Homo sapiens: one gene and its partners. The protein of the gene in region 2 purifies or fractionates together with the protein of the main gene of each other region. This does not show direct contact. Each region holds a gene or a part of one and is shown on either strand. Other genes may lie near its edges.

Region 1 (3,661 bases), on a different chromosome or scaffold from region 2:
TGAAGATCTTTTACTTTTTATAAAATGCCTCTTTAGTCTTACTTTCTACCAGTTTCTAAAACTACAATAAATTTTTTAACCAACTCTCCACCTAAAAGTGTTTTCTTTTTTGTATACAAATCAAACTTTGATAGACAAGCTTAGTTGCTGTTAAAAAATGGATTAAAATTTTTTTACCGTGTTAAAGGGCATAAACTTTGAGCTATAATCTGAATAAATTCCAGAGATCCAGTATACAGCATGACTATAATACTGTATACTTGAAATTTGTTAAGAGACTGGATCTTCAGTGTTCTCACCAAAAACAAATAAATATGTGAGATGGATAGTTATTAATATGATGGGTGAGAATCATTTCATTATGTGAGGTGCAGTAAAGTGAAACACAATAAAATGAGGTATGCCTGAGGTCAGGCACGGTGACTCACACCTTTAATCCCAGCACTTTGGGAGGCTGAGGCGGGTGGACCACCTGAGGTCGGGAGTTGGAGACCAGCCTGACTAACATGGAGAAACCCCATCTCTACTAAAAATACAAAATTAGCCAGGTGTGGTGACACATGCCTGTAATCCCAGCTACCTGGGAGACTGACGCAGGACAATTGCTTGAACCTGGGAGGCAGAGGTTACGGTGAGCCAAGATTGCGCCACTGCACTCCAACCTCGGCAACAAAAGCGAAACTCCGTCTCAAAAAACGATATGCCTGTATGTTAAAACATCGCATTGTACACCATATACATATATGTATATATATAGTTTGTCAGTCATGCGTCAAGTTTTGTTGTTGCTGGACAGTAATTCTGATTTTAGGTGGGTGATTTTAAATTTTTTTTTTTTGACTAAGGAAACTTCTTATCAAATTAACTATTTGCAAATGTGTTCTTTTTAAATGATACGTGCGTGTGTGTGTGTATATATATATAAAACTCGTTTTCCACTTGCAACAAATTACAGTTGTCATTTAACTGACAACTGTTAAATGACAATTTGAAAAGCAAGATACTGCTTTTCATTCTTTACTGTTTTGGTTGTAAGTACTAGCTTTGGTCACTACTGTACATATGGAAACTAAATTTATTTTTAAATCTAGCCTTGGTACTTGATTCTGCATCAGTAGTAAGCCTTTATTTTAAAATTAAAACTTGTCCATGCTACTTTTAAAAATGAAAATAATTAGGGACCAGGTGCAGTGGCTCATGCTTGGAATCCTAGTGCTTTGGGAGGCCGAGGTGGGAGGATTTCTTGGACAACATAGTAAGATCCTGTGCCCCCCCCAAAATTATTTTAATTTTAAAAAAGGAAAGTAATGAATGTAATTATATTAAAATATTTTGATTTACGTTGAAGTATCACTGTAGCTTACCTGCATATTTTTGAAAAACATAGTACATCAGTGTGTAGAAAAAAATTATTTGAACTAAATCAGTTTGTTGACAATGGTGTATTTATATACAATGACTAAATCAGTGGTGTATTTATGTGTAATACTAGAAACTGCACATGTCAACAACCCCACTACAACCTGATAATAAATATCTTACATGATGTGACAGTTAACGTAAAGTGTAGTCTTACCAAAGTAACGAAATGTTTAATGGGAACATATTTTAAAATGCATCAATACTTAAAATAATTAATTGTAGTAGTCATAGTATGTCAGTTTTTAATAATCTTGGGAGTGGCTACTATATTGTACGGTGCAGGTCTTATTGTCATTTTCTCGACTTTGGCAGAAATTGATAAAGAAGGTGTGATTGAACCAGACACTGATGCTCCTCAAGAAATGGGAGATGAAAATGCGGAGGTAAGTTCGGTGACTTGATTTCCTGCTTGTTCTAAGAAATGTGAAAGGTCCTGCTGTTGCAATGATTTTATGACACGATTCTTCCAGGAAAAGCGCATAGTAAATCTTTCTCTGACTTCAGGCGTTTTAGGCAAGCATTGTATTTTACTACTTAAAATACTAATGAAAATAAATACTGTTACTTTCTGTTTTATCTGTTTTTTAAGTTTGCATCTGGTGTGACTGCTTGCACTGTAACGCAGAATTCACTTAAAATACATACCTATTAGTGGAGTTGCTCTTGATGGAATATCTAATGCCAAATTGTATTACAGAATGGTTTGTCATAACAGGCCCTCAAGGGAGTGAAAATTGGTTCTTGGGAGGAGGGCTTAAAAAAAATTCTATATATTACAATGGTTAGTGGTCCTCCAAAGACTCATAGAATATTAATATGTAGTGTATCTGTGGTATTAAAATTGGGGATATGGAAATGAGGAAAAGATGTCTAAAAAGGCTCCTTAGTGTCTGATAAAAATTTGAGAAACACTCTAATATAGTAATAGCAGTTTTAAAAGATTGGTTTTTATCCTCAAAACTTGATATTATCAGATTTCATCTTTGCCAAGTATTGTGGGAAATGGTATCTTTTTGTGGCTTTTAATTTGCATTTTCCTGGCCAGACAGGGTGGCTCACGCCTGTAATCCCAGCACTTTGGGAGGCCGAGGTGGGTGGATCATCTAAGGTCAGGAGTTTGAGACCAGCCTGGCCAACATGGTGAAACCCCGTCTCTACTAATAATACAAAAATAAGCCAGGCATGATGGTGCACGCCTGTAATCCCAGCTACTTGGGAGGCTGAGGCAGGAGAATCACTTGAACCCAGGAGGCAGAGGTTGCAGTGAGGTGAGATCGCACCCCTGCACTCCAGCCTGAGCGACAGAGCAAAACTCTATTTAAAAAAAAAAAAAAAAATGCATTTTCCTGATTCCTAATGAGGCTGAGCATATTTAAATGTTTATTGGCTGTTCACTGGCATTTGCGAACTCCTGTTTAAACTTTTTCCACTTTTTGCTGGATCTTTTTCTTACTGCTTTGTATTTCATTTCAATATTCTGGATGCTAATAATTTGTTGCTAGTGCTGCATATATTTTCTGCTAGTTTGTGACTCATCTTCACTCATCTTTCTTCATGTTGTTTCAAAAATAGTATCTTTTAATGCAGATATTTTCTGCTTTATTACTTTGAGGTTATAATTGCTGTAGTGCATTGCTTTTTCTCTTCTGAACATTTTATACACTCACCTTTCACCTTTAATCTACCGGTCCCACCAAAACTAAAATACACTGTTTCTGAATATTGTGGGTCTGTTTCAGGAGTTTATTGTTCTGCTTGTCTATTTTTTTTCTGTTCACTAATGCCACATCGTCTGATACTAAGTCTTGTTATTTTGTAGAACAAGGACCCCCAAAACTTTTTAGTCTTTTGGCTGTTCTTGGCTTTTTGTTTTTCCAAGTAAATTTTAGAAATAGGTTGATCAAGTCTCCCCGCTTCCATTGGTTTTTTTCCCCTTTGTTAGAATTGTGTTAAATCTAAATCAAGTTCGGGAAAAGATATATCTCCTCACCATTGAGATAAACTATCCATAAATAATGTTATCTGCCCAATTTTTAGGTGTTTTTAAAATATTTTAATAACTTACTAACGTGTTCCCCATAAGTCTTGTGCTTTGTTTTTTTGAGACAGTGTCTCACTCTTCCATCCAGGCTGGAGTGTAGTGGTACAATCATAGCTCACTGCGCCCTTGACGCCCTGGGCTCAAGTGATCCTCCCACCTCAGCCTCCTGACCAGCTGGGACTATAGTCATGCACCACC
Region 2 (3,661 bases):
TTAACTGTTTGTCTCATCTGTGAGTACTGACAGTTTTGATTCTTCCCCTCCATCTCTTATCATTTTTTATTTTTTTTAAACCGCACCAAGTATGTGAACCCAGTTTTTGTTTTGCCTTTCTGTGTTTGCCAAGACTACTAGTAAAATGTTGAAGAGAAGGTACTTTCAGGGTTGCATCATAATTAGTAGGTTTGCCGTAGGTTTTTGATCAGGTTAAGAAAATTGTCTTCTATTCCTATTTTGTTAGACCTTCATATTTGATCACGGATGTAAAATTTTTTCAAATATTTTTTCTTCATCAGAGATGGTCATGATTTTTCTCCTTTGATCTGTTAATGTGATGAATTATGTGAATTGGTTTTCCAATATTAAAACAACTTTGCACTCCTTAGATAATTAAATTCAGCATAGTCTTCATGTATTGACTATTGTATTATTTGATGAAATGAGCTGGTCAATATTTTGTTTTAGATGTTTGTGACAATATTAATGAGAGTGGTCTATAATTTCCCTTTCTCAAACTTTCCTTACTGTATTTTGTATCAAGATTATGCCTCATGAAATAAATTACGAAGTATTCCTTTGTTTTTTACTTCTCTTGGAGAGTTTGTGTAATACTGGGATTCTTTCTACAGGATTCTGAAGAACTTTCTGGGCTAGCATGTAACTGTGCAAATTTTAAACTATTGATTTAATTTACTTAATGTTTATAGACCAGTTAGGTTTCCCTTCTTTTTTATTTACAAAAAGAAAAAATGGTTTCTTCAAGATTTCCTCTTATCCTTCATACATCTATAGTATCTGCATGATTATTCTGTTTTTTATTCTTTACATTGGTCATTTCTGCTTTCTCTCTCTCTCTCTTTTTTTTAACCATTCTCACCAGATGTCTTACAATATTATCAGTCTTCTCAAATAAACAACTTTTGGTTTTGTTGATTGTTTCTACTTAATTTCTTTCTTTCTTTCTTATTTCTCAGTTTATTTTGTTCATTTTCTAACTTCTTAATTTTTGTACTTCTTAATTTTCAGCCCTTCCTCTGTTCTTACATTAAAAATTTAAGACTATAAATTTTGAATTTTCTTATAAGTTATACTTTAGCTTGACACACACACACACACACACACACACACACACACACATACAATGTTCTTATATTGTTCTCATCATCTGAGTTCTAAATATTTTCTGATTTCTATTATGATTTTTTCTTTAAGCTAGGCCTGTGTATATCTTAATTTTCAATCTTGGGATTTCGAGGTTACTTTTTGTTGTTTGTATCTAACTTGACTGCTCTGTGATCAGAAAATGTCAACACTATGATACCAGTGCTTTGAAATGTCTTAGGACTTGCTGTACAGCCTGGAACTTAGCCAGTTTTTATAAATGTTCCACATTGCTTCAAAACAACACATTCTGCATTTGTTATGTTCATTGTTCCATATATGTCTATTGAATAAAGCTAATTTATTGTATATATTAGTTTGCTAAGGCAGCCATAACAAAGTACTACAAACTGGGGGTTTAAACAACAGAAATTTATTCTCTCACAGTTCTGGAGGTCAGAAGTCAGAGATCAAGGTAGCAGGGTTGGTTTCTTCTGACACCCCTCTTCTTGTTTTGTAGCTGTTCATCTCCCTATGATTTCACATGGTGTTTCCTCTGTGTCCAAATCTCTTCTTGTAAGGACACCAGTCCTGTTGGATTAGGGCCCACTCTAGTGACTTCCTTCTAACTTAATTACCTCTTTAAAGACCCTATCTCCAAATATGATCACATTGTAAGGTACTAGGAATTAGGACTTCAACATACGAATTTTGGGGAGACACAATTCTGTCCATAACATAGTCCTTTTCAAATTCTACATAAGATTTCCTTGCTTGATTTCATGAGTTAGGTGCTGAAAGCAGTCAAATTTTCCACAGTGATGATGAATTTTTCTATTTCTCTATAAAGTTCTTTCGATTTTTGATTTATGATTTTGATTTTGAGGTTATGTTATTAGTATATATAAGTTTAGAATATTTACAGCTACTTGGTGAATTAAACATTTTATTATTATGGAGTCACTTCTAGCCCCAGAAATGCTTTTGTCTTATATCTTATTTTGTCCATTAAAATATACTTACATTAGCTTTCTTCCCACTAGTGTTTGTGTGGTAAATATGTTTTCATCATTTTAGTCTCTATTTTTATCCTTATTTTTAAATGTAGCTTGGGTTTTTAAAATTCAGTCTGACAATATTTTTCTTTTAAATAGAGTACTATATCCATTGGTATTTATTATCTTCAATATAATGTACTTTGATCTTTTTCTACTAACCTACTTTTCGTGAGAGGCAATAGAGAAATAGTCTTGAAGAGAACAGACCTCTGAGAAACACTGCCTTGGTTTGAATATCAGCTCTATTGCTCACTACCCGTGTAACCTTGGCCTAGTTACACAGTCTGTGCCCATTTTCTTATTTGTAAAATGGTTATAATAACAACCCTACCTCATAGCATTATTATAACTATTGAGTGAGTTAATATACATAAAGTGCTAAGAACACTGCTGGACATGTAATAAGATATATACATATACCTACTTTCTGGTAATTTTTTTATCATTATATTTATCACTTTAAGTTGACATGTTTTTCCTGTTTCTTTTTTTTTTTTTCTTTTAAATTGTCAGAGTGTCTTTTCTTATTTGATTTCCTTCTGTCCTCTGATTTGGAAATTATATTCTCTTTTCTGTTCTTTTGGAATTACCCTGAAAATTTATCAAATGTACTTAATTTGTCAAAGTTTAAAGTCAATTCTTATCTTTACCCTCCTCTTGAACAATACAAGAATTTTGTAACACGTTAACCCTGATCAACCTATTTCTGACTTATACATTATTTTTATATTTTAGATTTTTCTCAATTTTAAGCCTCGTAAATTTTTATTATTGCTTTGTATATTCAATAATTATTTGGTTTTACTGACATATTTTCTGGGTTTTTTTTTCAATTATTTTCTTTTTACAGCTCAATTCTTTCATCTGATAACTGTTTCTGCCTGAATTATATCTCTAAATTGGGTCTGCAGTTAGAAAAATTTGTTTTTACTGACTGAAAATATCTTTATCATGCTCTTTTAAAAAAGAAATGTAACTTATTAAGAGGGTTTGTCAAAAAATATAGGTTGATGTCTTCTTTCAGTATATTGGAGACATAGTTTCAATATGTTTTAGCTTCACAGTTTTTTTAGCTCCATAGTTTTAGCTTCCATATTTGCTATTGAGAAGTAAGATTGCTTTTAATATCCTTGTCTTTTCTTTTTTTTTGAGACGGAGTTTCGCTCTTGTCACCCAGGCTGGAGTGCAGTGGCACAATCTTGGCTCACTGCAACCTCCACCTCCTGGGTTCAAGCGATTCTCCTGCCCCAGCCTCCCAAATAGCTGGGCTTACAGGCACCTGCCACCAGGCCTGGCTAATCTTTTTCTGTACTTTTAGTAGAGACGGGGTTTCACCACATTGGCCAGGCTGGTTTTGAACTCCTGACCTCAGGTGATCTGCCTGCCTCGGCCTCCCAAAGTGCTGGGATTACAGGCGTGAGCCACTGCACCCAGCCCAAAATCTTTATCTTTTGTTCTGCAATGTGACTAAGATGTTTTAAATATGATTTTTTTGT
Region 3 (3,245 bases), on a different chromosome or scaffold from region 2:
AATCTGACAGCAGACATGCTGAGGATAAAGCCTTGAAGTATGGCAGAGATTGATGATAGTAAAGAAGCTGCTTTGGTAAGAATACCTTTGAGAAGGAAGGTGACATGAGTGGTGCATGGGATACTGTGGAAGAAGTTATTTTAAAAAAGAATTGCATCTAATCAGAGGGAAAAATTTGGAAGGATAATGGAGGCTCACATCAGATGTTTTGGTCTTCACGTCATATAAGACAAAGTCATCCATAGAAACTGAGATGAGAGAACAACTTGGGAGTGATGGAAATATCTGGAAGTAAATACTTCGAGACATGTTTATGAGGTCAGATGCTGACTAAGAGCCACAATGAGGCTGTTCACAATGTAAAGATACTTCCAACCTCCTAGCATCTCTTCTCTCCTAGTAAGTTCTGCTGTTTCTTGGCTCTGAGAATCATTCTTTGCCTTTCATTCCTTAAGTCCTCTAGTATCTATTCCAATACCTGTAAGATTCACAGTGTTTGTTTCAGTTCGTCAAACTGATAAGACACAATTCAGGTAGAGATTTTTAAATAGAAATTTTATTGAAAGAATTTTGATACAGTTCATGATTCTTTTTAAATACATATGAAGTTTAACAAAATATATACATGAATGTGTTCAAGTAGAAAATGTGAAATATACATTATAGATTTGTTGTATTGCACTTGGGCAAATCATAATTGCTCACTTCAGCATATTCAAACCGAATCACAACATAGTCTTTGAAAGTTGACATTATAACTTAGCCTTGTACTCAAACATTTTAAGAAATGTTTTGATGCCTTAATCTTCACCAAAGGAATCAAACCCAAATACTAACTTGGCCATATGTTTAAATACCACTAAAGGCAGGGAGGTAAAGTGTTGTAGGGTGCTTAAAATATACTAAGAAGGGATTTGGCAATTTTCCATTCACAGTATTTCCAATATAAAAGACTCATCCTATTTATCAAACTCACAAAAGTTGGGGGAAAATATCACTTGGGAAAAAATTTCACTGAATTGCTATCAAAGGAAGCAATGAAGTTACTTGACAAACTATTGACAGGATGTCTAGTTCAAAATAGAATCTTCATTGAGGCTAACTGTAGCACAGTATGTGATACATAAACAAAATTCAAATATTAAAATTCTAAATAAAAAAATTTTCCCCGCTAGTATAAAGTAGAAGTTCTATAGTGGAAATAACAATGAAAACAGATGAAAAATCAGTGAAGAAATAGAGGGAGGTACTACTAAAATTTTGTGTTTGAGAGGAAAAAGAGAAAGGTAAAAAATAATTCTGGGAATATTTAAATCAGTAATTGAATACATGTAGTGATGTCTTTAAAGCACCTTCAAGAAAGACCTCTTTCATTTTGGATGACAATACATTAGGATAAATGAAATATGTGAATATGGCAATTTTCCATAAAAACAAAGGAGACTATGGAGACTGTCTGGTTCCTGATTTGGCCATACAAAATATAGAAAATTCAAGTGACCCAGGTTCCACAGTCCCAATTCTGTCAAATTCCGATCCAACAATTTGTAAAATGGATAACATCTGTATACTTCCACTGTATATGAAAAAGAATGAGCAGCTCATAGGGCTACTTAAAAAAAAAAATGGCCAAGGTGAATATATAGTCATTTATTTGTGCAAAAATGCCAAAGAAATGCTGAGATGTCTTCTGTAAAAAACAGTAAATTACTGGTTTTACCTATCCCTAACCCTTATTTTTGACACAACTATCTAAAATGTTCACTAGTTAACCAAACATTTACTCAGCATGTGAATCCATGCTAAGTTTGAGGATAAAAGGATGCAGAAGAGAAAGATATTCTTTATTACAAGCTTTCCAACATCATGATCAAAATTACAAATAATTTTCAAGGCTGTTGTAAGAAGTCAACATTAAATGTTAAGTTTAAGCATAGATTACTACTATTTATGAAACAGATTTCTTCCTTTTGAAAGGTGTGTATAAAATGTGATGTAAATCAAATCTACTTATCCTTCTCCTGCAGTGCAAAATTACTTGTACTTTTGGGGAAGATAATTCCCTAATAAACTAAATTAAGGTCTCTTGGATAGAAATTCAGTTTCTCTCTTCATACAGCCACAAAGGGTACTATCTTTTCATTCAGTCCCTTAAGCAGCTTACTCTTCAATGCCAACAAAACTTTATTTTTTAAATAGTCTTAAAAGTGCTTAAGGGAGTTCTGGTTCCTCTTTTTAGCCTGCACAGTTTAAGATCAATGGTAAAGGTAGGAAATAATCATAAGGGCACTGGAAGAAGGAATGAGTCTAAATAATGTATAATGACTGTTCCGCCATACCAATTTTGTCATGGTGATTATTCACTAATTTTATAGGAGAGTGTATTGAGATCTGCTACAGCTTCTTGGATCTTTGAAGCACTGCTGAATTACATACACAAAGCAGAGCAGATGTCAGCACCTGATTAATCAGTACTCTACTACTGGCTAGATTCCCCAGGCAAGTCACTTAAATTATCTCCAAACAGCTTCCTCATCTGTAAAATAAGGATAAAAATTCCTTCCTCACAGAGATGTTATGAGAATTAGAGGAGATTTGAAAATGCTCCGTCAATCATAAAATCATGCAAAATTATTCCTTTGTAGAAATTTGAGGATTAAATGTAATAACATGAAGGCCACACTAACCGCCTGGCACATAAATACTTAATAAAAGTTATTCCCCATTCTCACTTTCTGTGTAATTTGCAGTTAGGAAATATAAATCAAAGACACCCTTGTCAGACTCACATCCATTTGGCTTTAACTAGAACTGTCCTTCCCTGCTCCTTTTCTTTTTTTTTTTTTTTTTTTTTTGGATACATAATCTTTCACTGTATTTGAGGCTATCTTGAGTCTCTGGTTGAGATCTGGGTCACTAAGGCTTCTGGGGGATCATGTCTTCAACAAGCCTTCCAATGAATGTCCAAAGAAAAACATATAATTTCCTTTTATTTTTTTTTTTACCAAAGTTCTTATGAATTGGAAAATAATTTGTTTCAAAGACGGTGATGAAAGGAAAAAAAAAGTTTAACTTTCCAAAGGTAATGCTTTCATGAAGAGTTAGAAATAGCAGTTTTAGTAATTAGTTGTAGGAATTCTGGTTAAGACTTCAACATTTTACCTTACTTAAAAGATTTGCTTTATGCAACATTTAATGCCCAGTTTTGCATGGCTCTAAAAATCTTTAAAATGCAAAAGCTTTTC

The links.
Region 1: the proteins of DNAJC5B (region 2) and ST13 purify together in Homo sapiens (affinity purification with mass spectrometry, with the first as the bait; one large-scale study listed by BioGRID). This does not show direct contact.
Region 3: the proteins of DNAJC5B (region 2) and SLC30A7 purify together in Homo sapiens (affinity purification with mass spectrometry; one large-scale study listed by BioGRID and IntAct). This does not show direct contact.

What each region holds. Positions count from the first base shown.
Region 1 is NC_000022.11:40,842,983-40,846,643, reverse strand, and holds part of ST13 (hsc70-interacting protein), read left to right. Parts: intron 1-1,734; coding exon 1,735-1,805; intron 1,806-3,661. UniProt on the Homo sapiens protein: One HIP oligomer binds the ATPase domains of at least two HSC70 molecules dependent on activation of the HSC70 ATPase by HSP40. Stabilizes the ADP state of HSC70 that has a high affinity for substrate protein.
Region 2 is NC_000008.11:66,094,553-66,098,213, forward strand, and holds part of DNAJC5B (dnaJ homolog subfamily C member 5B), read left to right. Parts: intron 1-3,661.
Region 3 is NC_000001.11:100,979,047-100,982,291, reverse strand, and holds the end of SLC30A7 (zinc transporter 7), read right to left. Parts: 3' UTR 535-3,245; downstream 1-534. UniProt on the Homo sapiens protein: Zinc ion transporter mediating zinc entry from the cytosol into the lumen of organelles along the secretory pathway.